3 linked regions of the Homo sapiens genome follow. Each later gene encodes a partner of the first gene's protein in a complex. Each region holds a gene or a part of one and is shown in the gene's direction. Other genes may lie near its edges.

Region 1 (3,657 bases):
CTGGGTGACAGAGCAAGACCTGTCTCTAAGTAAATAAATAAAATAATAAAAATAAAGATTACTAAATTGGGCTGAGAGCCTGGAGCACAGGCAGAAAAGGTCAGACTCCTCTTTTAGCACAGTTCTGGGCCTCTGGGAGGTACCCAATGTATCTGTACCAAAGCGAGTGGTCATCTGCCTTGCCTCCTGCCTCCCAGTCTGTTGGCCCCTGTCTGGTTGCTTCAGACACCAACATCCCACAGAGGTTTCTCTTGTGTCCTAAGACCCCTGGGAAGGAGGTCCCTCACCCTGTGCAAAGATTATTTCTGGGGTTCATCCCCCACTTATCCTGCTGCCATCCAGCCTCATTTTGTTCTCAGGAGAGATGAGGAACAGTCGGCGGACTACTCTTCTGTAAAATGAAAGATCTTTCCCCCTTGTGCTATCTTCAGGCCTTTGGTCTACTATAGACACTGTCTTTAGCCTAAGGCTCGAGAGCCTGGGCTGACCCCTAGCTGAACAGCCCTCTTGCCCACGGCAGGGTAGGGGTAGAGGGCATGGTTGACAGCAGGTATGTGATTTTGCCTTCTTCTCTGAGAGTCTGGCCTCTGCTGCCTTCCGTAGGTGGTCATGCCCAGTGAGCTTGAGAGAATGTTCCTCTACCTGAGGACATTCTAAAGCCCCTTCCCCTATACACACACACACTCCTGCATGAACCCCTTATCTAGGCTTATCCCTTCTCTCTGCCACTGGCATCTCAGAATTGTGGGAAGTATCACTTGAGGCTTCTCCCCACAGAGAGGGAAAACTGAGGCAGGAAACGAAAGACTCCCTTTCCCTGACAGAGGAGGAAACCCAGACATTGTAACCTCTGGGCTCTTGTCTCAAAGTCCAGCGTCCCTTACTCATTTGTGCCTCTCCCTCATGGTCTTGAGGCTGAACTCTGTGACCGTCAAATGCACCCTCATTGCCCAAGACCTTTCCTATGGGCAGGACTCAGAGACTCTCCTTGCTCATGTTACCCCCTCCCCACATCCCCGGGGTCCTGCTCCGTAGCTAGGTTGCCTGGCACTAGCATAGCCTTCTTCTAGGGCTGATGTCCCCTGGGCCTGGGAAAGGACTAGGGAGATGTAGGCCAAGTGGTAGGTGTGGCCCAGCCTCACCTGCACCCAGGGAGACAGCTTTGTGTTCTTGGTCTGTGTCTTGTTTGCTGCCCACACCTGGCTAGTTGCCCCAGCAGGTGTGGAAGGAAGAAAAGTAGGGGGTGGGGAGAGCAAAGGGGAGGTAACTTCTAGGAGCTGGCAGCTTTGTGTCCTCCTCTTCACCCTGGAAGGGTAAGGGCTCACCATTTGGGAGCCTTCAGAGCCTTGTTGGAGTAGGGAAAGTGGAATCTTAGGGGGCAGATGGCTGGATCCCCACATTCAGGACTGGTGCTGTGCCAACCAGCATCTCTTGACTGTTGCGGCTGGCTGGACTCCTGACAGGCATCTTAAAGGGATGATGTCCAGGCTGCTTTGCAGGCTGCTATGAACAAGAGGGCTGGGTCTCCTGGATCCAGAATCATCTCTAATACATCATCTTCAGCACACCTCCCTTCCCTCGGCTCAGAGGACATGTTAGAGGGGAGAAAAGGGAGGAAAGAGAGAAGTGAAGGCTCTATTCAAAGCTGCAGTATTAATAGGCTTGGGGGAGGAGGGGCCCAGATCTTTGCACCTATGGATTGGGCCAGCTTTCCTGTAGCCTCAGAGGCACTGGGGCCCTTCTCAGGGGATAGGAGGGGCCATAGGGACCCAGCTATCCCCTTGGAGATGGAGAAACTGGGGGCAATAGAGGCAACACTGTAAGGTGAGGAGGGTGCCTCCATGGCATCCTTCATGCCGGAGCCTGGGAGTCACAGCCTCTTTCCCAACCCAGGGTTCAGCCGACTCCTACACCAGCCGCCCATCTCTGGACTCAGACGTCTCCCTGGAGGAGGACCGGGAGAGTGCCCGGCGTGAAGTAGAGAGCCAGGCTCAGCAGCAGCTCGAAAGGGCCAAGGTATACTTTCTGGGCATGGGGCAAGACAGGAGGCCAAGCTAGGTGGAAACCTGCACTCGGTCCTAAGTCCCAAGGGGTCCTTGGGCAGGATGTCCTTGAGTGTGAGAGGGTGTGTGTGATGGGCAGAGGCCACGGCCTTCTGCTGTTGGGGCACTGAAGCTGGAAGGGGTGCTTCGAGCCTTCTCTCACTTGCACTAATGGGCAAATTCTCCAGCACAAACCTGTGGCATTTGCGGTGAGGACCAATGTCAGCTACTGTGGCGTACTGGATGAGGAGTGCCCAGTCCAGGGCTCTGGAGTCAACTTTGAGGCCAAAGATTTTCTGCACATTAAAGAGGTGATCGACCCCCCTACTTCCAGAAGCCTCTAACTTCATTTTCTTGCTCTTGCTCCAGATCCTAATGCTTCTGACTTGAATCCTCAGTCTAATTCCCCAAGCTAATCAGCTCTTCTCCTTAACACACACCTGTCCACCCCTCATATCTAAGATCTCATCCCCAGGGTCTCCATCCTTCTGAGACCTGGCTTGGGCATCAGTCTCCATGTCTGTCAAGTGAGCAGTTAGATTAGCTGCCTCCGAGGTCCCCTGTGACAGCTGCAATGCCTCACTCAGAAATCCTGGGTGGCCCGAACTTGGCTGTCCTTTCCCCTGGCCCCTTCTGCCCACCGCCCCTTGCATTGCATTCCTCAGACCAGCTCAGTGACTGCCTCGCTGGCTCCTTCACATTGAAGAGCCAGGACTGGGGCGGGGCGCTTCTCTCACCACCCCTTCCTGCTCCACCTGCCCCCAGAAGTACAGCAATGACTGGTGGATCGGGCGGCTAGTGAAAGAGGGCGGGGACATCGCCTTCATCCCCAGCCCCCAGCGCCTGGAGAGCATCCGGCTCAAACAGGAGCAGAAGGCCAGGTGAGAGTTGGGCCATGAGTCAGTAAACACACCCCAAACACTTGCACTGTACCCACAGGACACGTCACCATGCATGCCATACACATGCATATCCCCCTGAAATACACATACACGTATGCCCAGCTCTACACACTCAACACTAAACAAATCTACAAACACACACACATATTGCATGTACACCTGTCTCACTAGATAAAGCATATGGAATTGTGTACAATTATTAAATAATGCATAGAACATACATACACAGAGACACATTCTTCTCTCTCTCTCTTTCACCTCCCTTTCTTCTCAGGAGATCTGGGAACCCTTCCAGCCTGAGTGACATTGGCAACCGACGCTCCCCTCCGCCATCTCTAGGTAGCCTCCCCCCAACCCACCCATTTTGGGTAGGTGGGTAGCTAAGACACAGGGAAAGAGGGGATCCTGCCCAAGTGAACTGTGTGGGAAGGGTTTGTGGAGGGATTGGAAGGGGTGGGGAGAAGCCAGTATCTCCCCTGGGGACGGGGATACCATGCCCCCAGGGACCTTTCCCCCTTCACCAACTTTAATCTTGTATTTCCTTTTCCAAAAAGCCAAGCAGAAGCAAAAGCAGGTGAGTCAAGGAAGGGACCTGGGCTGGGGGGATCATGGCTTATGGCTCTGGGGACAGTGTTCTAGGCAGTCATTGTTGGAGGGCAGAACAGAGAGGGGAGGGAGCCCAGAACCTCTGGATCTGCCCTGACGCCAACCAG
Region 2 (2,772 bases), 8.4 Mb from region 1:
CCATCGGGCCTATAGTTCCCCACTCTACAGCAACCAGCAGTACGCTTGTGTCAAAGATCTCTGTAAGTGCCCTTTATGGAACATGAGGGAATGGGCAAGCCTAGAGATGGTTTCATGCCATCTCTAGCTTTGGGAGCCAAATTCTGAAACAGAAACTTTCTGTTTCCCATAATTCTCCCTCAACCTCACATTTTTATATCCATTTGGATGCAGAGGCAATATCCCCATTTTACAGCAGAGGGAGATACGATTTAGTTGCAACTACATACAGTTAGCAAGAGGTAGAGCCAAGACTGGAATCTTCAGTTGCTAGCTTCAGAATCTGTGCTCTTTGTGTGCAAAATCATTTCTAAGCAAGAACAAGGATTCTAGATTGTCCTCATCCTTACTACAGAGTCATATCAGACTCGGGGCAAGACCCAAAGGCTGCAGGCACCCTGGGCAGGTTCATAATTTGGCAACCCAGGCCGGGCGCGGTGGCTCACGTTTGTAATCCCAGCACTTTGGGAGGCCGAGGCGGGTGGATCACGAGGTCAGGAGATCGAGACCACGGTGAAACCCCGTCTCTACTAAAAACACACAAAAATTAGCCGGGCGTGGTGGCAGGCGCCTGTAGTCCCAGCTACTCGGAGAGGCTGAGGCAGGAGAATGGCATGAACCCGGGAGGCGGAGCTTGCAGTGAGCCGAGATTGTGCCACTGTACTCCAGCCTGGGTGACAGAGCGAGACTCCGTCTCAAAAAAAAAAAAAAAAAAAAAAATAATAATAATAATAATAATAATAATTTGGCAACCCTTAAAAACATATTCATTGACAAATTTGCTCAACATTTATTTGGAGGAGAGGCTGAACTCTGTGAAGAGCATGGGTGAAAAAGAAGAACCTATTGGTGGCAGCACCTCAGCTTACACATGCCATTTAGCAGAACAAAAGCCAGCAGTTAAGGGCCCATTCTCCTTAGAAGGAGAATAGTGATTCTGCGCATGTCTCAGCTCCCAAGCAAGCAAAGTTGTGTTTCAAACATCATATAATGCTCTGCCTGGAAGGAGTTCTAATAAATACTTTCCTCCCTCACTTTACATCACCAGTGATGTTTTTAAAGTCCTTTATAGATTGGTGTCCTGGGTATTGCCTAGCTGACCCTTCCCTAATCTTCCCCGCGGCGCCCCCACCGCCACCCAACACACACATGGGTATCCATCTACTCAATCCCACCTCTCCCTTCCTTTCCTCCAAGCCTTTCTCTGCCTTCCCAATAATGTCTTCTTTCTCCTCCCATTCGATTAGCTGCTGCCAATCGCAATGATCCTGTGTTTGAAACCCTGCGCACTGGGGTGATCATGGCAAACAAGGAACGGAAGAAGGGACAGGCAGATAAGAAAAATGTGAGCACTGTACCTCCCCACGAGGTCCCTCCCAGAGATCCCATGGAGCAGGTCATTTTCCCATTTGGAAAGCTGACAGAAGTAATGGATTGTCTTCCCCTAAAATTGCACAAAACTCGGCCAGGCATGGTGGCTCACGCCTGTAATCCCAGCACTTTGGGAGGCCGAGGTGGGCAGATTACCTGAGGTCAGGAGTTCGAAACCTGCCTGGCCAACGTGGTGAAACCCTGTCTCTACTAAAAATACAAAAATAAAAATAAAAAATCCGGGTGTGGTGGTGCTCGCTTGTAATCCCAGCTACTTGGGAGGCTGAGGCAGGAGAATCGCTTGAACCCGGGAGGCAGAGGTTGCAGTAAGCCACTGCACTCCAGCCTGGGGGAGAAAGTGAGACCCTGTCAAGAAAAAAAAAAAAGGAAGGAAGGAAGGAAAGGAAGGAAGGAAGGGAAAAGAAAAGATAAATGTACATATCTGATCAAAAAAATCAACTGCAAAAAACAACTAGAAATCTGGCCTCAAACTTGTTGATATGGAGGTTGGACACAGATAAGGGATTTCTATGGAGTGAATTAATGACTTGTAAGGCACTAGCAATGTGATATGGCTGCTTCCAGAAGGGCTAACATACTCTTGGGTTATATTCTTTTAAGGGAATTATAAAAATTGTGCTGCTCTTTTTTTTTTTTTTTTTTTTTTTGAGATAGAGTTTCGCTCTTGTTGCCCAGGCTGGAGTGCAATGGCACGATCTCGGCTCACCGCAAACTCTGCCTCCCGGGTCCAAGCGATTATCCTGCCTCAGCCTCCCGAGTAGCTGGGATTACAGGCATGTGCCACCATGCCTGGCTAATTTTGTATTTTTAGTAGAGAGGAGATTTCTCCATGTTGGTCAGGCTGGTCTCGAACTCCCGACCTCAGGTGATCCGCCCACCTCGGCCTCCCAAAGTGCTGGGATTACAAGCATAAGCCACCGCGCCTGACCATGCTGCTCACTTTTTACTTACACACTGGAGTATTTTTAAAGGCTGACAGCATAGTCAAGGACCTGGAATCTGGTAGTGAATTCCCTGTTATTTAGCTACATTCAAGCAGAATGTGGGTGACCCACCTGATAGGATGTTTTAGGGAAAGTCCCTGCATGGCCGGGCACAGTGGGTCACGCCTGTAATCCCAGCACTTTGGGAGGCCGAGGCTGGTGGATCACGAGGTCAGGAGATTGAGATCATCCTGGCTAACACGGTGAAACCCCGTCTCTACTAAAAATACAAAAAATTAGCCGGGCGTGGTGGCAGGCGCCTGTAGTCCCAGCTACTCAGGAGGCTGTGGCAGGAGAATGGCGTGAACCTGGAGGCGGAGCTGGCACTGAGCCAAGATTGCGCCACTGCACTCCAGCC
Region 3 (2,901 bases), on another chromosome or scaffold:
CCAGGAGGGTGCGGTGGGCTCTGGGAGCTTTTCAGGATCCGCAGAGCTCAGACGCACACCCATTGTCGGGAGTACAGACCCGTGCCTGCCTGCGCCCAGACAGCTGCACACAGGGTGAGTGGGCAGACACACAGACACACACTGACACACACAGACACACACAACACAGATACACACACACGACACACACAAGACACAGACGCACAGAGACACTGACACACACGCATGATGACACACAAAATGACACACAGTGACACAGACACACACTGATACACATGCATGATGACACACAAAATGACACACAGTGACACACACAGACACACACTGACACACACGTACAATGACACAGACACAGAGACACACACTGACACACACGTACAATGACAGACACAGAGACACACACTGACACATATGCATGACACACAATGACACACACAGACACTGACACACACACAGATACACACATACAATGACACACACAAGACAGACACAGAGACACACACTTGACACACACACAATGACACACACAGACACTGACACACACACTGTGGTGCATGGTGTGGTCCCTAACGAGCCATGACAAGAGCTCCCATGCTGAGGCCGCATGCTGGGTGTCCCTTGTGTTTGCAGAGTACAGCATCTCGGCAGCCGCCATCGCCATCTTCAGCCTTGGCTTCATCATCCTGGGCAGCCTCTGTGTCCTCCTGTCCCTCGGGAAGAAGAGGGACTATCTGCTGCGACCCGCGTCCATGTTCTATGCCTTTGCAGGTAGACTGGGGGATCTGCCTGAGCGCCGGGGCCGGGGGACCATGTCGCGGGGGATTCTCCGCTCCACCCTCATGCCCACCGCGAGATTTGGGTGAGGGGCATTTCCCAGGCTCCATCCCCATCCAGGGGCAAACCTGGCCAGGCCATCAGCGACTCCAGGTGGGTTGGAGGGAGACAGAGCTTGGCGGTTTGTCCATTCCTCTCCACGACTCAACCCTCAAGGCCCCAAAGAAACTGCCCAGAGAATGATTAACAAAAGAAGGAAAGAAACGTGGTCACCTTTCTTTCTTTTTCTTGGGGGATGAGGAAGAGGGTCTCGCTCTGTCATCCAGGCTGGAGTGCAGTGGCACAATCACAGCTCACTGCAGCCTCGAACTCCTGGGTTCAAGGGTTCCTCCCGCCCCAGCCTCCTAGTAGCTGGGACTACAGACGTGCACCACCACACCTGGCTAATTTTTCATTGTATTTTAATTTTTTGTAGAGACGGAGGGCTCATCACTATGTTGCCAGGCTGGTCTCAAACTCCTGGCCTCAAGCGATCCTCCTGCCTCAGCCTCCCAAAGTGCTGGGATTACAGGTGTGAGCCACCACACCTGGCCACATGGTTGCCCTTCTGAGGGATGCAGGAATAGGGTGGTGGGTGGACAAATGGATCCTTCTGCAGGTTCCCATCTAGAACCTGCCTTGAGGCAGCTTTTCCCCCAAGGCAAGGTCACCGCCTCCTCCATGCACACAGGCTGGGATGGGGCTGGTGGCTACGGCAGACGCCCCTCGGTCCCTGAGCATGCCTGGCTCTGCCCCCAGGTCTCTGCATCCTCGTCTCGGTGGAGGTCATGCGGCAGTCGGTGAAGCGCATGATTGACAGTGAGGACACCGTCTGGATCGAGTACTATTACTCCTGGTCCTTTGCCTGCGCCTGTGCCGCCTTCATCCTCCTCTTTCTCGGCGGTCTCGCCCTCCTGCTGTTCTCCCTGCCTCGAATGCCCCGGAACCCATGGGAGTCCTGCATGGATGCTGAGCCCGAGCACTAACCCTCCTGCGGCCCTAGCGACCCTCAGGCTTCTTCCCCAGGAAGCGGGGTCTTGGCCTGGAACCTTCCAGAGAGGAGGCGGGAGCAATTTTAGCCCCACCCTGCTCCCATCTGCCCCCCTGCAACAGTCGCAGGCTGCTTCCTCTCTCTGAGTTCCTCTGGGCTGCCGCAGGCTCCCCTGGGAATAGAGCAAGACGTGAGTCCTAACCTGGCCACAGTTGGGGGAGGCAGAGCCAGCAGGTGGACAGGTGTTTGCAGGGGCCCAACTTCCCCTGGAGCTCAGAGGTGTCCCCACTGTACCAGCCTCTGATAAGCTGCCTCCAGTTGTCCTTTATGAACATTGCAGGGACAACCTGTGTTTGCCAGCTGGGTGTTCCGTGTAAATAGCCAGCCTGTCTCTTTCTCGGTGATAAAACACACCCTCTCTGGTGAGCCCAGCGTCCCCTCCTTGGCTTCCAGGAGCCCTGGGAAGCATTTTTAACTGGGTAGAATCTGACTGTGGCTTGAAATAAAAAGCTCTCAGAAAACTCATGCTTTCCTGGAGCCTTGCATAGAAATCGCTCGGATTCCCAGTCACATCAGGGGCTCCCCTGACGCCGAATGAGAAGGAAAGGCCGGTCACCCGGGTATGTTGAGGTCTTTTGTGGGGACAAGAGGGCAACGCACGTGGCTTAGAGGCTCTGAATTCCAACTCGTATCTCTAGGCCCTGAGATTGTTTTCGGGAGAAACTAGAAACCCTCTGATGAAGCAAGGGTGTTAAAAATAGGAGGGGTTATTTCTAGAGCCTGGCATGCAACGCACCTGGTGCCAACACAGCGCTAAAGCAGCCAGCCAGTGTCTGATTTCTGATGTTGGATTTTTCTTGTGAAGAACATCAGGAAGCAGGGCTTAGCAGTTAGACACTTAGGGCCACATGGAGAGCCATGATTTGCACTCTTCTGCCTTCCAAAACCCCGCAGTACTTGCCCAGGCTTCCAAAGTGGAGTTCAGACATGATCGGCAGATGGGATCCTTGCCTTGCACCCCGGAGAACCCACTGGAGTTCACGCTTCTAGGGCAGGGTTTGGCAAACTATGGCCCATAGGCCACACCTGGCCTGCCC

The links.
Region 2: CACNB3 (region 1) and STAC3 share a complex: the UniProt entries of both Homo sapiens proteins name them as parts of the calcium channel complex.
Region 3: CACNB3 (region 1) and CACNG1 share a complex: the UniProt entries of both Homo sapiens proteins name them as parts of the calcium channel complex.

Annotation. Positions count from the first base shown.
Region 1 is NC_000012.12:48,821,451-48,825,107, forward strand, and holds part of CACNB3 (voltage-dependent L-type calcium channel subunit beta-3), read left to right. Parts: intron 1-1,893; coding exon 1,894-2,016; intron 2,017-2,230; coding exon 2,231-2,353; intron 2,354-2,807; coding exon 2,808-2,923; intron 2,924-3,218; coding exon 3,219-3,283; intron 3,284-3,498; coding exon 3,499-3,518; intron 3,519-3,657. UniProt on the Homo sapiens protein: Regulatory subunit of the voltage-gated calcium channel that gives rise to L-type calcium currents. Increases CACNA1B peak calcium current and shifts the voltage dependencies of channel activation and inactivation.
Region 2 is NC_000012.12:57,245,416-57,248,187, reverse strand, and holds part of STAC3 (SH3 and cysteine-rich domain-containing protein 3), read left to right. Parts: coding exon 1-62; intron 63-1,286; coding exon 1,287-1,384; intron 1,385-2,772. UniProt on the Homo sapiens protein: Required for normal excitation-contraction coupling in skeletal muscle and for normal muscle contraction in response to membrane depolarization. Required for normal Ca(2+) release from the sarcplasmic reticulum, which ultimately leads to muscle contraction.
Region 3 is NC_000017.11:67,054,473-67,057,373, forward strand, and holds the end of CACNG1 (voltage-dependent calcium channel gamma-1 subunit), read left to right. Parts: intron 1-630; coding exon 631-768; intron 769-1,572; coding exon 1,573-1,799; 3' UTR 1,800-2,325; downstream 2,326-2,901. UniProt on the Homo sapiens protein: Regulatory subunit of the voltage-gated calcium channel that gives rise to L-type calcium currents in skeletal muscle. Regulates channel inactivation kinetics.